Linked DNA regions of Homo sapiens. The protein of the gene in region 4 purifies or fractionates together with the protein of the main gene of each other region. This does not show direct contact. Each region holds a gene or a part of one and is shown on either strand. Other genes may lie near its edges.

Region 1 (4,787 bases), on a different chromosome or scaffold from region 4:
TGACATTAGTACACTGATTTCACAATTGTCTTCTGTCTTCTCAGCAGTCATTATCACACTAAAGGTCATAAGGAAAACAACATTCACAACAAATGTGTTCCCTGGGGTGCACGTCACTGAACAAAGTGGATGATATTCAGGAAAAAAAAAGTGCGATTCTACAAAGTTCCTCAAATACTGATAACATATAGAAATAGGTAATAGAGACACTCTAAAGGAGAAACAAGAGTCAATAGGATAAACCAGAAAGAAAAGCTTCAATGTTAACATCGATATTTCAATATCTTAATTCAGCTCGAAACAGTCCTGGTAATTATTTTATTCAAAAGGGCTGGCTCTAAGTTCGGTATTCTGGAAACTCTTAGAAGACACACAATGGCAATTAACTTCCTAGGCTAGCTCACAAAAGCCTGTAAGAATAATTATGAATATAAAATGTGGTATATATACATCATGGAATACTACTCAGTCATAAAAATGAATGAAATCATGTATTTTGAAGTGACTTGGATGGAGCTGAAGGTCATTATTCTACATGAAGTAACTGAGGAATGAAAAGCCAAATACCATACGTTCTCATGTATAAGTGGGAGCTAAGCTATGGGTATGCAAAGGCACAGAGTAATATAATGGACACTGGAGACTCAGAAGGCAGACAGTGGCGGGGGTGGTGGTGACGGATAAAAAACTACATATTGGGTACAATGTGCACTACTCAGGTGACAGGTGCACTAAAATCTCAGACTTCACTACTATACAATTCAGCCATGTGGCCAAAAACCGACTGCTTGTATCTCAAAAGCTACTGAAATTTTAAAAAAATGTGAAAAAAGAGTAATTATCAATATGATTATTGAGATAATTACCTATGTAACAAGAGTGCTTTCACATATATCTTGCTTTTCACAACAGCCCCGTCAAAGGCGGCCTTATTCCTATTATACAGATGACTAAAACAGACCTGGAGAGCTGAAATCATTTGTCAACCACCGCAGAGACAGAGGGCAGCAGAGCCTGGACTTCAATCTGGATTTACCCATGCCACAAGAGTACAGTTTCCACCTCGCTAGTAACATACATAATATAGCACTAATAATGCCATTTTGATTTCTTCTATAAACTGTTCATAAAGTATTCCATTAGAAAAAGACAGTTGTTTTTAGTTGGGAGATTCAAGGAGCACCTCTCCCCATCAATCACCCGGCTAGTGAAATGGGGAAGGCAGAGCTGAGACTCTCAGGGGAACAGTGGCAAAAAAGGTAGGAAAGGAGATGGTACCATGCACTTGTAACTTTTGTTTATTTTTATTTATGTTTTTCCTTATTATTTAAACCATACTTGCATACCAGAAACTCCTAATTCTTTTTATTTGCACAGGATAAGATCTTCTATTAAAAACAACAAATCTCCAGGTGCTCCAAATGAGAAGACAGAGACCTAGACATGATTCAGTTCCAGAGTATTGTTACAGCGGGCACGCCTTGCAGCAGAAAGTGTACCTCCATATTACTTCAGAGAGCAATCAAGAAACTGTTCGATAAAACAAAACCCTACTAAAAATTCACTGTTGTGTTATCCCCTAAAAAGGTAGTTTGAATGATCATCTCTCCATTTGACTAATTTAACTTGGCAGTACAGAACCCCTACCTAGCACTGTTCTCCCAGTCCATCTGGGGTAGTAATTAGCACAACTAGGAGAATTTAACTTACAACCCTGTGCTCTGTTATTTGAATGTCATCCTTTCTACCAGCTATTATCAACTGACTGATAAAGGTCACACTTTATTCATAAAGATTTTTTAGAAACAGAAATAAATTTAACTTATAGATTTATAAAACAAATGGTCTTAAACCTACCAATCCTTTAAGACCTGTTGGCAAGAGAATCAAATCACAGAGTATGTGACTACTATATTTAGAATGAGAGCATCTTTCTCCAAATTCAGGGTGTCAGCTTATGAAAGCTATTTTCTTCATTCCCGAAGTGCCATTCTTTTATGTAATTTTACATAAACCTGCAGATGTTAGACTGACAAAGGGACTTTCATTTCGCTGGGGGAGACTTAAAAATGTGCCATTCAGTCAATAAGCAACAACTGCTTTTCAACATACAATATCCAGGAATATCTATACTTACTGAAAGCTCATGACAGTTTCACATTCTTTTTGGGGTAGGTACTAGGTTATTAAGGGCCAGTAAGCGATGCCTACCTCCATCCAAGCTGCGAGACATGGTATAACGTTTGCTGGATGAGCGTTCAAAGTAAGGTGCTGGGCGATCTATCAACGCACTGGCTCTTCTCGTTTGCGCTTGTGTCCTGCCACTATAACGAAACTTGGAACCCAAGGTTAGGAATTTCTTGGGAGGTGCTTCTGGTAACAGTAGTCTAAAGAGAATAAAGAAAAACAGCAGAAAGACTATTAAGTCCAATATTGAGAGTGCTTTTTAAACTTTTTACTCTGAGAGGTCATGTGTTTTGCATGCTAAACATTTAACGCACAACTTGCAGTTAAATAAATCTGATTTCATAAAAGAATGCATATAGTATATATCAACTAGGGATATTGTAGAGAGGATATATGCAAATGAGGGTTGTACTGAACTAGATGAATTTTTAACATTCCACGCAAAGTGGACAGTCTATGGTTCTATAAGCCCAAACAGCTACTAAATAGTTTGATATTAGTGAAGAAGAAGAGTGACAATTTGGTGTTGGGTGCCTAATTTGATGGGTCTCGTACCATGCATAGGTAGGTAAAGGGATTCAGGGTATTGAGAAATCACTGAAATAGTAAGGAATTGAAATAGTAAGGAATGGATTGGATATTTGAAGTGGACACCCTAAAAATAATGTAAACACACTAAAGATACTAAAGAAGGGGGGTTTGGGACATGTAAGTACATGACAAATTAGGGAAAATCCTTCAAATTTAGTCTTTTTCTAGTTCTCTTAGGATTTCTTATCAAGAAATATGGTGACAATGAACTTGAAGGGATAGAAAGAATAAAATTCCATATTTTTTATTGACAATCTTTTTCAGTATAAGTGATTATAATTATTCCTTAGGGAAAAAACAAAATAATCTCTTCCTACCTGAAAAATGTATGATGCTCAACACATACTTTCCATAAACGCTTGGCAGCTCGATGGTTTGGCAGCTTAAACCCAATGGTGCTTTCAAATTGTTCAAACTAAATAAAAAAAAATACATTGAAGAGTAAAGTTTAAAATTATAAATAACAGAAGCCCTGTAAATAAATTACAGAATCATGATGCCACCAGAATTTTAAAAATTTACTTACTAGATCAATTGCTATATGCATAATTCATGCTATACAGATTCATTTGTTAATTTCAAAAATGTGTCTTTAAAATGCTGCAGGTATAAATAGCCACTTTATGCATACAGTAAAATGTCTTCTGAATAAGTGTGTATCTTATGATACAACTGAAAACCAAACACGAAAAGGGGTTTTTTTGATTTCTTCCAGAAATCAATTTGCCCTGATATCACTTTTAAACTTTTATTTTCATGGTTTCTCAATGACACAATGACTTCAACTGCAAGGTACAGAAATGAACAAAATGTTTACAAATATAGTCTACAGCATTCTTAGAAATGAGACTTTTCTCCTAATACCTGGGCAGGAAATATGTGTATTTCTTAGGTAGTTGATAACTTGGTGTCAGAGATTGCTGATTTTATTTGTGTGTTCCGCTATGGATTATCGTGTTAAATGCTAACGTCTCTCTATATCATACGTAAGATCAGAGATTGGGGGAACATATTTTCATATTTTTCAGCATGTACACTTCAGATGATGCCTTATCAGCCATTTGATTTTTCGAGGTGAAATACTCATCTCATTTCCTGCATAATATACTTTATTACTGCAGATGCACAGGTTTTCACATTCTGAAGAAGGTACACATCAGACCACCAGAGGGCAATCATCTTAAACAGTAAAGGCTTCCCCAAAGAGCACACAATGGGTACTACTGCTATAATCAATAGCAAAAATCATTTATATGGCAAAGAACCGAGGTGAGGGGTCATATGCATGGCATGTGAGATACAATCATGTTTGACCTCTATTTCTTGTTTGTTGAGGATGATTAGGGGAAGTGGGAAACACATCACAAATGCTTCAACCGCAATTGCCTTTCCCAACTTCTTATTCACTCTGGATGTTCATGTGCAGTGGTGTTTGTAAAAATCACTACTGTCTAAGGGACTCAGCCAAGACAGACATAGTGTGGCTTGTGACTAAATCATCATCCATTTATTCATCCTGCAACTAATATGCACATATTACGCCAATGCCAGGGGTTATATGGAAGAGTCAGCTTGCACTCTGCTGCAAGAAGCTGGGAAGAGTCTCTGCCAACCTCTGTAGGCAAGGATGATGCAGGCTCCTAGACTACCTGAATAGGTATTAATAGTTTATTAATATCTATTTCTCTGTGTTTTATATCAATTTCTTTCAACTTCTTCAGAGTCTGTGTGTCTCCAATTTCTTCTCACTCACTTTTCTCAGGCTGTAAATAGGATTGTAAAAGCAGAGAGAAGAGGAGTGAAAAACCAGCTCTCTCTGAGCCTGCTTATGCCAGCACCACAACCCCATCTCACTCCTCACTGCTAAACTTTAGGAAGCAGAAGCCACGACCTGCTGCCTCTGCTACCTACTCCTGACCTCAACACACCTGGCAGGTGCTCCTGTTGCCCTTCTGAACTCTGAAATGTCATCATGGGGCCTGACTGTTAAGTTCAACACACTTTTGTTA
Region 2 (4,787 bases), on a different chromosome or scaffold from region 4:
GAGCTGACCACTGAGGAGGATCCATATGTGGGCAACCCTGTCCCTCAAACACCAGGAAGGGCAGTCAACAACTCAAGAACTCTGCTGATGGAAGAGCGCTTACTGACACAGAAAGGTATCTACCAAGCTGTGATTTAAAAAAGACCAAATAAAAAGGCAGGTGCTAATGGGGAACAAGGAAGGAGGCAGCAGCAGCTGGGGATGGTGGAAATTCAGGGCCAGCACACTCAGGTTTCAATTTCAACTCTGCCATTAACAAACTGAGTCACGGCACCACTCCCAGCCCCAGCTTTTTCAACTGGAAAATGACAGAGGAAGGGAAGGGTTAATCAGATATTTTTCAGGTCTAAGAATCCATGATTCTGTGATAAGGCAGCTCAATGTGAGAACAAATGGAAAGAAAATGTGTTCTTGATTTCTACTAATTTATAGTGTTTGGTAGCCAAAAATTAAATATACCCCATAAAATCATGTTATCACAATCTTCCTACCTTAGCATAATGCAACAGTGGCTAAATGTGTGCAAGAAAAGGAAGATCACTTTCAGACAAATTCAGCAACATAGTACACAGACTAATTGTTCCAAAGAGATTTCTTTCTACATAACTAATATTTGAAAATCTTACTTTTACTCCCCAGGTTATTTTTTTTAATTGCCTGAACACTAAACGGATGTATTATTTCCTTTAGAGTGTATTTTAGATCCTCTACAACCTGGTATCCTGATTTTATGTTAAACAAAATTCTACAAACTGAAAAGCAGAAGTTTTAGGAGCTGAAGTGAATCTGGATAACTGATTCTCAACACTTCTGTGGGGGATGGTATGAAGCCATCCAATTTAACATCAAAATCTTTACAGAAAAAAGCAAGATCTGTATATGCTGCTTTGGTGTGAAAGTGAATAAAAGGTGCAAAACCAGGTGCATGGCATGCTAACCTCTGTTAAAAGAGGAAGAAAATATATATGTGTGTGTGTATATATATATATATACGTATATATATATATATATTTTTTTTTTTTTAGTAGTGATGAGGTCTCACTAGGTTACCCAGGCTGGTCTCGAACTCTCAGGCTCAAGTGATGCCACTGCTTTAACCTCCCAAAGTGGTATGTATTTGTTTATATTAAAAAAAAAAAAAGAGCATAAACCAAAAACTAATGAAAATGGTTACCTATGAGGGAGGAAGTGAAAGGGGTAAACAATGTTGGAAACTGTACACGGTGTTTAGTAGTTTTGATACGGGAACCTCATAAATGGTTTCACATAATTAGAAAGCAAAATTAAATCAATATTTTAGAAAAGCAAGTCCTAAAAACCCAAACGAAATGAAACAAATGGTCTTAACTGTAAATCAAGACATCAGCTAAACTAAAGAAAATTACTTCAAGTGACTTCAAAGCCCAGTAACTTCATTCTACGTCACCAGGAAAATATATCCTAAGGAATAAAAGAACCACAAAGAAATCCTACAGGAGAAATGACCTTGTCTCTTTGGTAAATGGCAACAAAAAAAGGAAACGGTGTGTGTATGTGTGTAAATAAAAACTACTAAGACATGTTATCTATAAGGTATGATGTTATCAAATGCTATATATAGGACCTCATTTGAATCCTGAATCAAATATTTACAGATCAGAGAAATACGAATGCTAACTAAGCATCAGATGATATTAAGAGGTTAATATTATTTTCTAGTGTTTTAGTGGTATTGTGGGTACATGAAGGGGAAAAAAGTCCCTCTCTTAGAGATGGATACTAAAGCATTTATGGATAAAATGAAATAATATCTAGCATTTACTTAAAAATAATCCAACGAGTTGGGGATCAGTGGAAGTGGGTACAGGAAAAAAAGATTGTCCATGTGTTGATTATTGATGCTGTATACATGGGCTTTGATTTATTATTTTCTCTACTTTTGTGAATGTTTGGAATTTTCCACAAGTCAAAACAAAAAACAAATCTAGCAATAATTTTTGATGTACATAAGGATTCAAGGAACCCATGCAAGAGTTCAAGCTGAGAGAGAGGGAGAGAGAAGCTCCTACTTTATGAAATCCTGGCCCAGTCTCTACTTTCCATAAGAAACTACAGCCTTGAAAACGAAGCTGCTTGCTCAAGGCCACAGACCTGATTTGTGCAGGGGTGAGACTAATATCCGGCATGGCTCCCAGTCCAACAGATTACAGTGCAAATTCTTCAAGACTAAAAAACATAAGACTATATTTACAGGGATTATTTCTACAGTTCATTACTAGAGAAGTTTCTCTCAGGATGTAGAGCAGAAAAGATATATTAAAAATGACTGTGAAGGAATAGTTGTCAAGAAAAAATGAAAAGTATTAAAAAGATTAAAAACAAACAAAAAACTGATTTAAAGAACTGTAAATCCATGCATTATGAATTCACTCTTTCATCCATTTTATTTCAGTTATTGTATTTTTCACTAAAATTCCCACTTCTTTATATCTTCTGTTTTCTTGCCAAGACTTTCTATATTTCCATCTGTTTCAAGAGTAGCTTTACTTCTTGGACTATTTTAATAATAGGGGCTTTATAAAGTTTTATTTATTTTTTAACTGTAGCCTTAACAAATTTCCACAAACTTAGCAGCTTAAAATAACAGCCTTTTATTATCTCACAGTGTCTACGGGTTAGAAGTTTGAGTGTAATGTAACTCACCAGAATTCTCTGCTTAGGGTCTCAAAAGGTCTAAGTCAAGGTGTCAGCTGACCTGGGGTCTTATGTGGATTTCCTTGGGGGAGAATACACTTACAGGCTCATTCAAGTCTGTGTGGGTAGAGGACTGAGGTCCTTAGTTCTTGCTGGCTGTCAGCTGTTTGTCATTCTCATTCCTTGGCTCATGGCCCCTTCCATCTTCCATGCCAGAAATGTTACGTTGAAAACTTCTTATACTTCCAGTCTCTCTGCCTTCCCCATCTGCTACCAGCTGGAGGAAGATCCCTGCTTTTAAAGGCTCATATAATTACCTAAGGCCCACCTGGATAATCTAGACAACGAATCCAGGCTAGTTGATTCGTACCCTTCATTACATCTGCAATGTGCTTTTGCCAAATCAGTCACATACTCCCAGGATAAACACTAGGAGGTCAAGCTCATGGAGGCCACAAATCTGCAGACCACAGTCTATCAGATAATTCCAACATAGGCACCACCTCAGCTTTAGCCTGTGTCTTTTTTCACGAGTTATTTTCCTGGTTCTTCACATGCTGAGTAAATTTTGCATTGTATCCTGGACATTTTTAACATCACACTCTTAGAGACTCTTGATCTTGTTTAAATCCTATGGGGAATGCTGGTATTTTGTTGAGCAGGCACTGGCCTGGCTGGATTCAGTCCCCAGGTCCTGACCAGCCTTCTGTAGAACATGGTATCAGTGTCACTTTCACTTTCAAAGCCTTTGCAGTGCTCCTCAGCAATGTCCTGCGGTCCCTACTTGCTTGGTGGCCAGCCTGCCTTCCAGGCGATGGTCTATCCCATAGCCGAGTTCCGTCTTTGGCAACCTGTTCTGGCTCACATCACGCGTGCATAGCTCAGTGTTGAGCCTATAAGTTAACTAACAACTTCATGGGGTCACTTTCCTGAGCAATTCCCTCTCTGGAATCTCCCTAGTATCCCTTCCAGTGACCTGGGCTCCCCTTTTCAGACTCCAACCAGAAACCTACGGCTTTAATTACTCCGTTTAGCCATGCTATTCTTGTGCCTGCATCTTGCCTGGGACTGAGCTGCAGGAGGGAAGAGAATAAAAAGGCAACTGGGGTTTTCCCCATTCCCTAAGAGTTTTAGGTGTTCACACACTCCTGCCACTGCAGGGCTGAGTGGAGGAGAGGAAGCAAGAGGGAAAAAAATAATGGCTTTCTCCCACTTTCTGTCTTGGGGCCCAACTACAAAACTACTCTGTAGCTCTCCCTGTTCATACTGGGTACCTGCCTTCAGGTTTTGGACAGCCAGAGTCCAGGGCAGGGGATGCTGAAGGGAAGACAAGAAACTCACTACTGGTGCAAAGTGGTGCTTCAAATTCTGGCCTTCTCTCCCATCCGCCTGTTACCGTTTACTTGTCGGAGTCCTCAACAGCTGCTCCATGCACATGTCCAGGTCTTACAGCCACAGACAGTGGGAGAGGCAAGATGGAGTATGCTCCCTCCACCTCCCAGAACCACAGCTCCACATCCATGCATTTTAAAATACATTTATAGTGGTTATCATTGGGAGGGGTAAGAGGATTGATTTTTATTTCCTTCTTCCTAATTTTCTGTATTTGTCAAATCACCTACAGTGACGAGTATACATTATCTTTGAAGTCAGATGGTTTCTCTGCAGAATCCTGCAGAAGTACTACCAGCTTTAAAAGTCTTAACTGATAGGGGCTACCTACAGTATGCCATTACTTACCTTCCAAGAGAAAGCTGGAATAACTGTCTTTCCCCTTAGAGTTGTATTTGCTCTTCTTTCAAAAATAGTTCAATTAAAAATTAATATATATATATATTTTTGAGATGGAGTCTTGCTCTGTCACCCAGGCTGGAGAGCAGTGGCGCAATCTCGCCTCACTGCAAGCTCCGCCTCCTGGGTTCACGCCATTCTCCTGCCTCAGCCTCCCGAGTAGTTGGGATCACAGGCGCCCGCCACCATGCCCGGCTAATTTTTTGTGTTTTTAGTGAGATGGGGTTTCACCATGTTAGCCAGGATGACCTTGATCTCCTGACCTCATGATCTGCCCACCTCAGCCTCCCAGAGTGCTGGGATTACAGGCATGAGCCACCACG
Region 3 (4,787 bases), on a different chromosome or scaffold from region 4:
ACTATTTATTTATTTGGAATGCTGCATTTGCTAAGGCCACCAGCACAGTGCTGAAGACAAATAGCAACTGTAGGTCCCACTTTCTGGTTCTTGTCTTTAAAGGGAATACTTCTAATGCCTCACTGAAGAATCAAGTCTACTCTAGATTTTCTAGAGATACTTACCAGTTTCACCTATTTACTTTCTATTCCTAGGCTGCAAAGAAAATCATGAACAGCTTTAATTTGTAATCAAATGCTTTTCTCCTTTTGTCTGGGAATTACTCTGAATAATTTTTACCATGTACACACTGGTGTTTACATTGTGTCACTGGAGCACATATCCTTGGTCATGACTTTAAAATACATTGCTACATTTGGTTTGCTAGCTTTTAACTTAAGTTTTGAGAATAATTGCTCATGTATGAAATCAGTCTACAGTCAGTTTTCTTCTTTCACTCCTTGTTTTGTAGTGACCTCGCAATAAGCAGGGAGGCATTCCTTCTTGTAATGGCTGGAATGGTCTCTAAGACTAAAGCTCTAAGCACAGGCTTAGCTTCAGTCCTTAAGTTTTGACAGACATTTTTCCCATTATTCTCTCAGTTTTAGGTTTTTAATATCCATTACAATTCCTTTTTTGAGTTTAGAAGTGAATTTCTAAGGGTCACGTTCTTTTAAAGCTATCATTTTGCTACTGAATTTTCATGACTGCATTATGTCCTGAGATAATCATCTGTATGTTACTGAAAATAAGTAAAGGTTTTTGTAAAACCAGTCGACCTGAAACCGGTTTTCATGGGCCATGCTCTGTAGCCTGTTACACAAGCCAATTTCTATTGTGATTAAAGATTTATCAATTCTCATAGTTCTATCAAACTGCTAGATGTAAAATACAGTCTTCTGAACACATTTATGGGGGAAAAGGCACTTAGGGGCCTAAACTCTCCATCTCTTCATTAAGATTTATTGTGTTTAATGGAGACAACAGAAAGACATCAAGCTAGTATCTGAACATTCATTTGAATCAAATTAAAAATTTTAATGTTTGAGGTTTCTGCCCCACCATCCTCCCAATAACCTGAAGCTACCAGCAGGATCTCACCCCTGGTTACCTTTTGAAGACCGCAGTCTCTGTCTTGGCATCTACAGTGAGGCTGAGCGTTTCCTTCATGCCGCCATTCATCACTGTCTCAGTTACCTTGTCTGTACTTTCTGCATCCTCCTCTCCGTCAGAGCTGGCTTCCATGGCCACACTGCCTGCCGCTGAAAAGAACACAGCTGATGGTCACACACAGCAAGCCCGAAAAGGAACTGGCACCCCACCACTGTACAAACCCATCTACCCAACGTGACATCTACTGCTTGAAGAAAAAAAAGAGTGAGATGGCTTCTGCCTGCTGTTGTCTGGGCCACATTCTTGATGGGGAGAGACTTCTTAAAGATGCCCACTAAAGAGGGGTTTCATGGGTTTTCTTTACTAGAGACTAGCAAGTCGCCTACATCCCTCCCAGCTCAGCGTCCACCTCCATACCCAGCTTCTCCCAGCAGACACTTGTGCTCCTAACTGTTCCAGTGTGGGGCAGAGCAGGCAGTTACACACTCTACCCTCTACTCACTTGTTTTCCTCAGTTGGGCTCTATTTGCTTTGCTTTGTTTTAAAAATTACTTTCTTGTGGTGTTGCTGGTGGATCGTTTCTTTGTTCTCTAATGGGAAGCCAACATAGGTGATGAGCCTGGCTGAGGTGAGGCTTCCTGGATTCAAACATCGACATCACCACTTCCTAGCTGTAGACTACTTGGACAAGGAACCTCATCTATAACCTGAGTTTCCTCATCCAGGAAAGGGGATCAGTGCACCCACTTACAGAACCACTGAGGAGTCAAATGCGGGAATCTGTATCAAATGTTCAGGAGGATGATGAAACCAGCATTAGTTATTGGTTTTATTCCTTTCCCTTGCCCCTGGGAAGGAGGGTTCTCACACCCTCTACCAAAACCTCATTTCATTTTCTAAGAACTCACTCCTTAAGCCCACCTCATGATTCGTGCCCTCCACATCCTTTTGGTTCCCATCACACTCCCTTTGCTAGCATCCCCCTCCTCCCAAAGCCCCGTCCATCAAGGTGAAAACAGTTCAGGGCCGTGCAAGGAACACATTTGACTAGGTAGAGTAATAGGAAAACCCACTGGAACTTTAGAGATTCCCAGGACTATTCAATCTGCTTACAATGGCGAAGTGAAAATAACCAGCCCCATAGCTCTAAACAAACCCAGATACACCTACATGCTTGAGCAAAGCAAACTCCAAGGGACAACTACACACAGGCTTGGCTGCACACGTCTAATTCCAGTTTTATTCACCCTGGGTACTATGGGCTTAGGCCTTCTTCCCTCTAGACCTCAGTTTCCTAATCTGCACACTGCATGCCTGGTAACTTAGAGCCCTTACTCTTTCCAGAGTCAGCATGCTGTGGTTCTAGAAGGACAGGCACAATTTCTTTCATCAGCTGCCCTGTGGACATCAGACCCACCATCTCACTCCCGGGCTCCACTAGCCCCTGAGCCTGAGAATCAGGTCTGGTTTGACAAAGCAGCCACGTGACCCTGGCGTGTACCCAGGCCTCTCTGCACGCACCTTCTGGCTGCACTGCCAGGGCAGCCGCACTGGGAGTCAGAGGGTCCATGGGTTCAGTGCTGGTTTCCATTTCCACTGGAGAATTACTCCTTAAAGAATCTTTTGTGCTTTCAAAAAAGAGAAAATTCAGATATTAGCAGCAGGGAATGGTCCTCAGTTACCCCAAGATTCACAATAAGCCTTTACAAGTAAGTTTTTGTTAGGAGACATTAGCATCTGTGTAAGAGTCACTGGGTTACAAACTCCAGTGACACATGGATCTAAGTGCCAGTAGCTGTTTGAAGAAGGACATGAGTGCGGGCAGGCAAATGTTCTGTTAAGCCAGCAAGGCAGTAAGACAGGGACTTTGTAAAGCATTCTAGACAGGCTCATCATGTCCCAACTTCTCATCCCACCATAGTCACTAGGAGGCTCCCAGAGCTTGAACAGCAAAGACGTACATTGTGCAATGGCAACGGTATTTATCAGGTTGACTGGTTTTACAAAAACCTTTACTTATTTTCAGCCACACTGCCTGGGAGAGACTGGCCCTCTTAATGATATTTGTTGTTGGAACTGTGGAAACATAGTAAAAAAACACCAAATGCCTGAGCAGTAAGGGGTAGGGGTGAGGGAGATCATTACACTTCCTCTTTTATCCCTCATTCCCACAAACTCAGAGACGTGCACACAGAGGGTAAAGAGAAGCAAGCTGCTTCAATCACACCCTCAAGTAACCAAAGGCTCTTATCCTCGGGTTATAAACAGACCAAAAAAAGGAGTAGGCGGAAATGTATGTCCTGTACTGAAAAGCGGGGTAGACGAAATAACTCATTATTTTGGAGACATTTTTCACAAATCTCACTTGTACCTCTGAGTAGTAACTTAATGCTATTACTATGGTTACTACAAAGCAACATGGGTTTCAGCCTATTCTTTGGTTTGTCTAAGACACTAACTGTCAGCCCAAAACAGCTTGTCTTCCTATCTTCCGAGTTACCAATGATTGGGAGCCCTTAATTGACAGCACTGGACTAGCTGCAAGTGAACTGTAAGTTCATATTATCTACTGAATTCAAGATCCATTTTGTTTGCCTGCCACACCCCACACAGAGGTGCTGTGCCTGTCAGGATTTCTTGGCTTCACCTCATTCCTCTTCTCCTCAATTCTGTCCTGACAGCTCTATGAAGCCAGAAAAGCTCACGGAGATGCATCTTCTGCTGCGTCCTGCTAACTCCCTGGGACCGCATCCTCACAAGCTACTTTGTTCAAGAACTACTCCCATTTCCAATTAATCCAGGAGGAAAGGAAAGGAAGATGGTGATTGTTCTTCTTACAACACAGAGCTGTGTTAGTATGCTGATGTTTAATCTTTTTCAGGGCAGTATATTCAACTTGGAAGTCAGTCAAGGTGAAGAACACACGTTAACAGCAAACACCTGACCATTCCCAGGTCCCCCGTGGAAGGGTGTAGAGACAGCACATGTTCGCTCACCTCAGGGAAGACGTGAACTCTGAAAAAGAAGCCCAGCCCGTCTCTTTAGTTGGCATCGGCTCCTCTGTGCTCCAGACATCAGATCCCACAGAATCCAATGGAGCACCGTGGGTTGTTTCCATTGGGACATCAAAGTTAGCTGACCAGTTGGGTGCTAAAAAGAGGGGAGAAATTCTATTTGGAAAACACTTCAGTCGTTTCATGTACCACAAGGTATTTATCAAAAACACATTAGCAAAAGAGACTGGAGCTGTGGGAGAAAGACACTCTCACCAATGAGGGCAGGAGCGGACAGGGCACAGCCACCTGGAGGGCACTCTAACAATGATCCCACATTCTCAAACCTCCCATTTCTTTTTATTATTATTTTTTTGAGATGGAGTCTCGCTCTGTCGCCCAGGCTGGAGTGCAGTGGCACGATCTCCGCTCACTGCAAGCTCCGCCTCCCGGGTTCACGCCATTCTCCTGCCTCAGCCTCCTGAGTAGCTGGGATTACTGGCACCCGCCATCACGCCTGGCTAATTTTTTGTATTTTTAGTAGAGACAGGTTTCACTGTGTTAGCCAGGATGGTCTCAATATCCCGACCTCGTGAACCGCCCGCCTTGGCCTCCCAAAGTGCTGGGATTACAGGCGTGAGCCACCGCGCCTGGCCTCAAACCTCCCATTTCTAACAACTGTTCCAAAAGAAATACTACACA
Region 4 (5,525 bases):
ACGCCTGTAATCCCAGCACTTTGGGGAGGCCAAGATGGGAGGATCATTTGAGCCCAGGAGTTCAAGACCAGCCTGGGCAACACAGTGAGACCACATTTCTACAAAAAATACAAAAATTGGCCGGGCGTGGTAGCTCACGCATATAATCCCAGCACTTTGGGATGCCGAGGCAGGCCATCACCTGAGGTCAGGAGTTCAAGACCAGCCTGACCAACATGGTGAAACCCCGTCTCTACTAAAAATACAAAAATTAGCCACGTGTGGTGGCTAACACCTGTAATCCCAGCTACTCGGAAGGCTGAGGCAGGAGAATCGCTCTACCAGGGATGCGGAAGTTGAAGTGAGCTGAGATCGCACCATTGCACTCCAGCCTGGGTGACAAGACTGAAACTCCATCTCAAAAAGCAAAGCAAAACAAAACAAAACACAAAAATTAGCAGGATGTGGTGGCGTGTGCCTGTAGTCCCAGCTACTCAAGAGGCTGAGGCGAAAGGATTGCTTGAGCCCGGGAGGTCGAGGCTGCAGTGAGCTATGATTATGCCACTGCACTCCAGCCTGGGTGACAGAGCAAGACCCTGTCTAAAAAAACAAAAAAACAAAAAAAACCCATCTACTATGTCTGCCACCCCATCAAGGCTCCCAGGGCCCAGAGAGGCATGGGTGGTTCTCAGACCCCTGAGCTCACCTCAGAGTACAGGGGTGGCGGGCGGTAGCGGAACTCTTGGATGTAGGCGAAGAACGGGCCTTCAAGGCTCATGTCGGGGTCCTGCGGAAGCGGGAAGGGGCTCTGCCCCAAGGCTGCCTCCTCAGTGTCGGCTACCACCTCCGAGTACTCAGGAGGAGCTGGAAGCGAGAGACAGGGTGGGTGAGGTTGGCAGGAGAGAGCCCTGCTCCAAGGGACCAGGGGCCAGGAGCTGGCTTGTGCCAGCTCTGGGGCTGCCAGGCTGTATGTCCTTTGGTTGGGATTCCGGGGGACTCGTGGTGAGAGAGTTGACCCGGCATCCACCTCTCCGTGTATCCACCCACCCTCTGCATGCAAGCAGGGTGGGAGCTTACCCTCAGGCCGCTCCGGCAAGGCCCCCAGCCTCCAGTCCAGCAGGAAGCTGGCGTGGCTGCCCACGCTGGAGGAACGGCTGCCAAAAGGGTGCAAGGGAATGGTGCCGATCACCAGTGGCAGCTCCAGCAGCAGCTTGGACGTTCCTGGGATATCCACACAGACCTGGAGGAAGGAACCATAAGGGAGGGTGCCCAGGCAGCCTCCCCAACCCCCACCTCCCTCCTATGCCTGGGGAGACTGAGGCCTCAGCTTCCCCCAGTCTGAGGGAATACAGGGTGAATGTAGGCACTGTCCCCCAGGGCCAGCAGGATGCCCTACCTTGAGTGCGTAGTCCACGTGTAGAACGCGGCAGTGCAGGATGGAAGGACCCACTGGGGGGATCCGCAGTGCCCGGCCCTGCCACAGCGCCCGCTGCCCGGGGCCCACCGGCTCGCCCGCGAGGCTGGCCACCACTGCCCGTTTCTGCTTTCGGGCGCCTCGGGCCATGAACGTCTGTGTCTGCACCACGGCTGCCCGAGGCAGCACAGGACGTGTGGAGCCGTTGTCGATCTCGGCAAAGACAGGGATGACCTCTCCTGCAGCAAGGAGCAGTGGGGCCTCAGTTTCCCCTCCTGCAACCCCAACACCAGCCCCCGTCCCAACCCAGTCCGGTCCGCCTGCTACCTGGGGTGTAGCCCTTGCGGTCGATCTTGGCCGAAAGGGAGACTAGGCCACGGTTACAGTACCAGGATCGGGCAACCTTTTCCCGAGCCCCCGCTTGAGGTGCCTGTCGGTGTAGAGGAAAGTGACATGGATGAGTCACTTTGTGCAAACCACAGTCGCTGTGGAGCTTCCAAACCACCCCCAGCTGAGGGAGGACTTTGGGCAGGGCTTGGTTTCTTTTTAACAATCCAGGAACTATCCGTTAAATAGAGCCAGGAACACAACCCATCTTATAAAGCCAGAAATGAAATGTATAAGCCAAGTGTTTGGTGTGTAATTCACACTTGGTAAGCCCTAGCTCTGGTCTATTTCACAGAAGAGGCATCTGAGGCTCAGAGAGGGCTTCAAGACACTTGCCCAGAGTCACACGGCAAATGGGTGCAGATCCCAGTGGATTCCACACGCATTCCCACACCTGCCTCCCTCCCTGCCAGGGCCCACCTATGACCTCCATCTTATTGGTTGGTGTCGCCCAGCAGCCAGGCAGGCCCCTTCCTACAATACTCCCAACCTACCTCCCCAAGGGTGGCCACTCACCAGCAGGGCTGGCGTGTTGATGTCCACAGGCTCGATGACAGTGAACACCTTCCTTGCCCGGCGTGCTGGGACCCAGGGCCGGTGCAGGGTGGCCTTGATACAGTAGCGGACACTACCGTGTTTGCCCTCGAAGGATGTCACCAGGGTCCTAGGGTGGAGGGACGGGACTTCAGGGGACAAGATACAGAGACAAGCAGGCAGGGAGAAGGAGACACAGACACTCCGGGGGCCTCCCAGGGGGAGAGTCTTGGGGCTCAGAGGTGCCCAGATATCCAGTATTGGAGGTACCAATCTGGAAGGGGCTGCAGGCTTAGGGCAACCCTGCACCCCAGAGGACTTACGGGGGCAGCTGGAAGCTGAACAGGAACTCATGGCGCCCAGGAGGCAGCGTCGTGGTCTCCCCGGTATCTGCAGGTAGGAGAAAAAGGAGGCGACTGAGCGGTTGCGCTGGGGTCCCAGGGCTGACGGAGGTACCGCCGTCCAGGTGGTGGGAGGCACACAACTGGTGTTGGAGCAGGGGTCCTCCATCCGTACCTGGCGCCAGGAGCGTGGCGCGGTGGCTCACGACCTCCACGCGTTCACTGTAGCTCTGCGTGTAAGCCGTGCTCGAGCCCGCGCTGCGCGACTCGGTCCAGTGCACGTGGGCGCGGCCCCGCGCGCGCAGCCTCAGGGCACCCACACGCGCGGCGCTTGACAGCTCCAGCAGCACCCGGCCCGCCACGGCCTGGCCGCCGCTAAACACGGGCTCGACGCCCGCGGTCGCGCCGTCCAACTGCACCGAGAACGCTTTCACCTTGTCGAATAGCATCGCGTCCGGGGTGCGAACCCACGACAGGCGGAACCTGGCCTCGAACTCGCGAACCGGCAGCTCAAGATGCCGACGCTGCAGCCTCAGAACGCAAAATCGCCGTCAACGCGCAGGCGCGCTCACCAACCGGAGCAGAAAATCCCCGCGCCGTGCGTCGGCGCCGCTTTTATACGGCAGGGCGGGGGGGGGTGGGGTCACCGTCTCTTCCCCGCCCCGGGAAGGGACTCCACCAATAGCGCGACAAGGGGCGTGGCTCTGCCCAGGCGTGGAGCAAAATAACAAACGCCCCTGCTCACCGCCGGCTGCCCCCTTCCCTCGCGGACCCCGGGGAGAAACTGAAGCCCTTAGGCTGCCAGAGCTGGTCTCTCGCGGACCCCGGGGGTAAAGAGGAAAAAAAGAGGTGCAGAGGCAGGGCCCAGGCCTGAGGTCACCTAGCAGAGCCTTCAGCCTCTCGGCTTAATCACTCACCAGCCGCCCCTCGTTGACGTGACTCGAGGCATGTCCAGCCCGATTTGGGGCGGGGGACTCTCGCCCCAGTTGAGGGCCAGAGAGCCTATGACTGTTCCAGGCCTGTTTCCCCCGCTATGCAAAGGGAGAAGTGGAGGAGGTGGGTGGGACCGCCCTCCACACTGGTGCCTGCTGCACCCCTTTCCTGATTCAAGTCCCGCTTAGCTGGTGGCTCTGGGCAAATGACAACCTCTTGGAGCCTCAGTTTCCACCTCTGTAGAGCCGGGAGAAAGTAAAAATCAGTCCTGACCTCAGAAGGTTGTGCATGGATCATCGTGCAGCCCCAGCTGGACTCCTCCAAGAGCCTCGCTCCCGGGTCATCAACCTGCTCTTGACATACCGTCACTCGGTCGCGCCTCGGCGCATTCGCCCAGGAGCGGTACCTACGAAATGATGTTCCCTTCCCAATTTTCAGCCTCTGGCAAACCCTACCTTCCCCGCAGCCCTTGTGCCTGCTCCAGTCATCCTCAGCCCCCGTCCCGCCACAGAGCTGAATGCAGGGGACGCTCGGGCACCCCCAGGTCCACAGCTGCGGTGTGGCCACGGGACGGCGTGACCTCTCTCTGGGCTTCAGTTTCCCCAAAGAAAAGTCGCATGGAGTTTCTCCAGCGGGAGTTGCCTCTGCGTCGTCTGCGGGACGCTGGCGCCCTCTCGTGGCAGCGTAATGCGCTGCCGCTGAACCCATCCCCTGCCGTGACTGTCCGCCTCTGAGCCTGGCTCAGGAGACTTCCACCACCTCAGTGAGGTGTGTGGGTGGAGGGGGCGGTCATAAACAAACACGGTCACCCTCAGCCCGTGATGGGGATCGGAACAGGAACGACGGAGTTGGAGGCACAGTGATCAGCCTGGAAGGCTGCCTGGGAGGATGGGTCTTTGGAGTTGAAAGGAAGGTCTGGGACCTTAGGCCAGGTTTCAATGGATACTAGAGGGGAGACAGTAGGCCGTTAAGTCCGGGAGGAGAAGCGGGATTAGGTAACCCTGAAGGGACTACTGAGCCAGCGCCTCCCTCAATTCATTTCGCAGACGGACCCCAAAGGCCCAGAGATGGGTGGGGCTCTGCCCGAGGTCACACAGCACCTCCACTGGCCTCGCCCCTCCAGTGTCACTGTTTTTTCCTTAAATGTATAACAATTTAACAATTTTTAAGCTCCCTCTCCCTCTCCCTCTCCCCTTGGTCTCCCTCTCCCTCTCTTTCCACGGTCTCCCTCTCATGCCGAGCAGAAGCTGGACTGTGCTGCTGCCATCTCGGCTCACTGCAACCTCCCTGCCTGATTCTCCTGTCTCAGCCTGCCGAGTGCCTGCGATTGCAGGCGCGCGCCGCCACGCCTGACTGGTTTTTTTGGTGGAGAAGGGGTTTCGCTGTGTTGGCCCGGCTGGTCTCCAGCTCCTAACCTCGAGTGATCCACCAGCCTCAGCCTCCCGAGGTGCCGGGATTGCAGACAGAGTCTCGTTAACTCAGTGCTCAATGGTGCCCAGGCTGGAGTGCAGTGGCGTGATCTCGGCTCGCTACAACCTCCACCTCCCAGCCGCCTGCCTTGGCCTCCCAAAGTGCCGAGATTGCAGCCTCTGCCCGGCCGCCACCCCGTCTGGGAAGTGAGGAGCGTCTCTGCCTGACCGCCCATCGTCTGGGATGTGAGGAGCCCCTCTGCCTGGCTGCCCAGTCTGGAAAGTGAGGAGCGTCTCTGCCCGGCCGCCATCCCACCTAGGAAGTGAGGAGCGCCTCTTCCCGGCCGCCATCCCATCTACGAAGTGAGGAGCGTCTCTGCCCGGCCGCCCATCGTCTGAGATGTGGGGAGCGCCTCTGCCCCGCCGCCCCGTCTGGGATGTGAGGAGAGCCTCGGCCCGGCCGCGACCCCGTCTGGGAGGTGAGGAGCGTCTCTGCCCGGCCGCCCCGTCTGAGAAGTGAGGAGCCCC

What was found.
Region 1: the proteins of ARRDC2 (region 4) and EPB41L3 purify together in Homo sapiens (affinity purification with mass spectrometry; one large-scale study listed by BioGRID and IntAct). This does not show direct contact.
Region 2: the proteins of ARRDC2 (region 4) and FARP2 purify together in Homo sapiens (affinity purification with mass spectrometry; one large-scale study listed by BioGRID and IntAct). This does not show direct contact.
Region 3: the proteins of ARRDC2 (region 4) and PPP6R3 purify together in Homo sapiens (affinity purification with mass spectrometry; one large-scale study listed by BioGRID and IntAct). This does not show direct contact.

Annotation. Positions count from the first base shown.
Region 1 is NC_000018.10:5,421,167-5,425,953, forward strand, and holds part of EPB41L3 (band 4.1-like protein 3), read right to left. Parts: intron 3,194-4,787; coding exon 3,096-3,193; intron 2,388-3,095; coding exon 2,212-2,387; intron 1-2,211. UniProt on the Homo sapiens protein: Tumor suppressor that inhibits cell proliferation and promotes apoptosis. Modulates the activity of protein arginine N-methyltransferases, including PRMT3 and PRMT5.
Region 2 is NC_000002.12:241,362,329-241,367,115, reverse strand, and holds part of FARP2 (FERM, ARHGEF and pleckstrin domain-containing protein 2), read right to left. Parts: intron 1-4,787. UniProt on the Homo sapiens protein: Functions as a guanine nucleotide exchange factor that activates RAC1. May have relatively low activity. Plays a role in the response to class 3 semaphorins and remodeling of the actin cytoskeleton.
Region 3 is NC_000011.10:68,599,796-68,604,582, reverse strand, and holds part of PPP6R3 (serine/threonine-protein phosphatase 6 regulatory subunit 3), read right to left. Parts: intron 4,243-4,787; coding exon 4,089-4,242; intron 2,721-4,088; coding exon 2,614-2,720; intron 1,242-2,613; coding exon 1,091-1,241; intron 1-1,090.
Region 4 is NC_000019.10:18,005,890-18,011,414, reverse strand, and holds the start of ARRDC2 (arrestin domain-containing protein 2), read right to left. Parts: upstream 3,246-5,525; 5' UTR 3,105-3,245; coding exon 2,831-3,104; intron 2,705-2,830; coding exon 2,638-2,704; intron 2,445-2,637; coding exon 2,297-2,444; intron 1,824-2,296; coding exon 1,721-1,823; intron 1,633-1,720; coding exon 1,376-1,632; intron 1,220-1,375; coding exon 1,057-1,219; intron 844-1,056; coding exon 686-843; intron 1-685.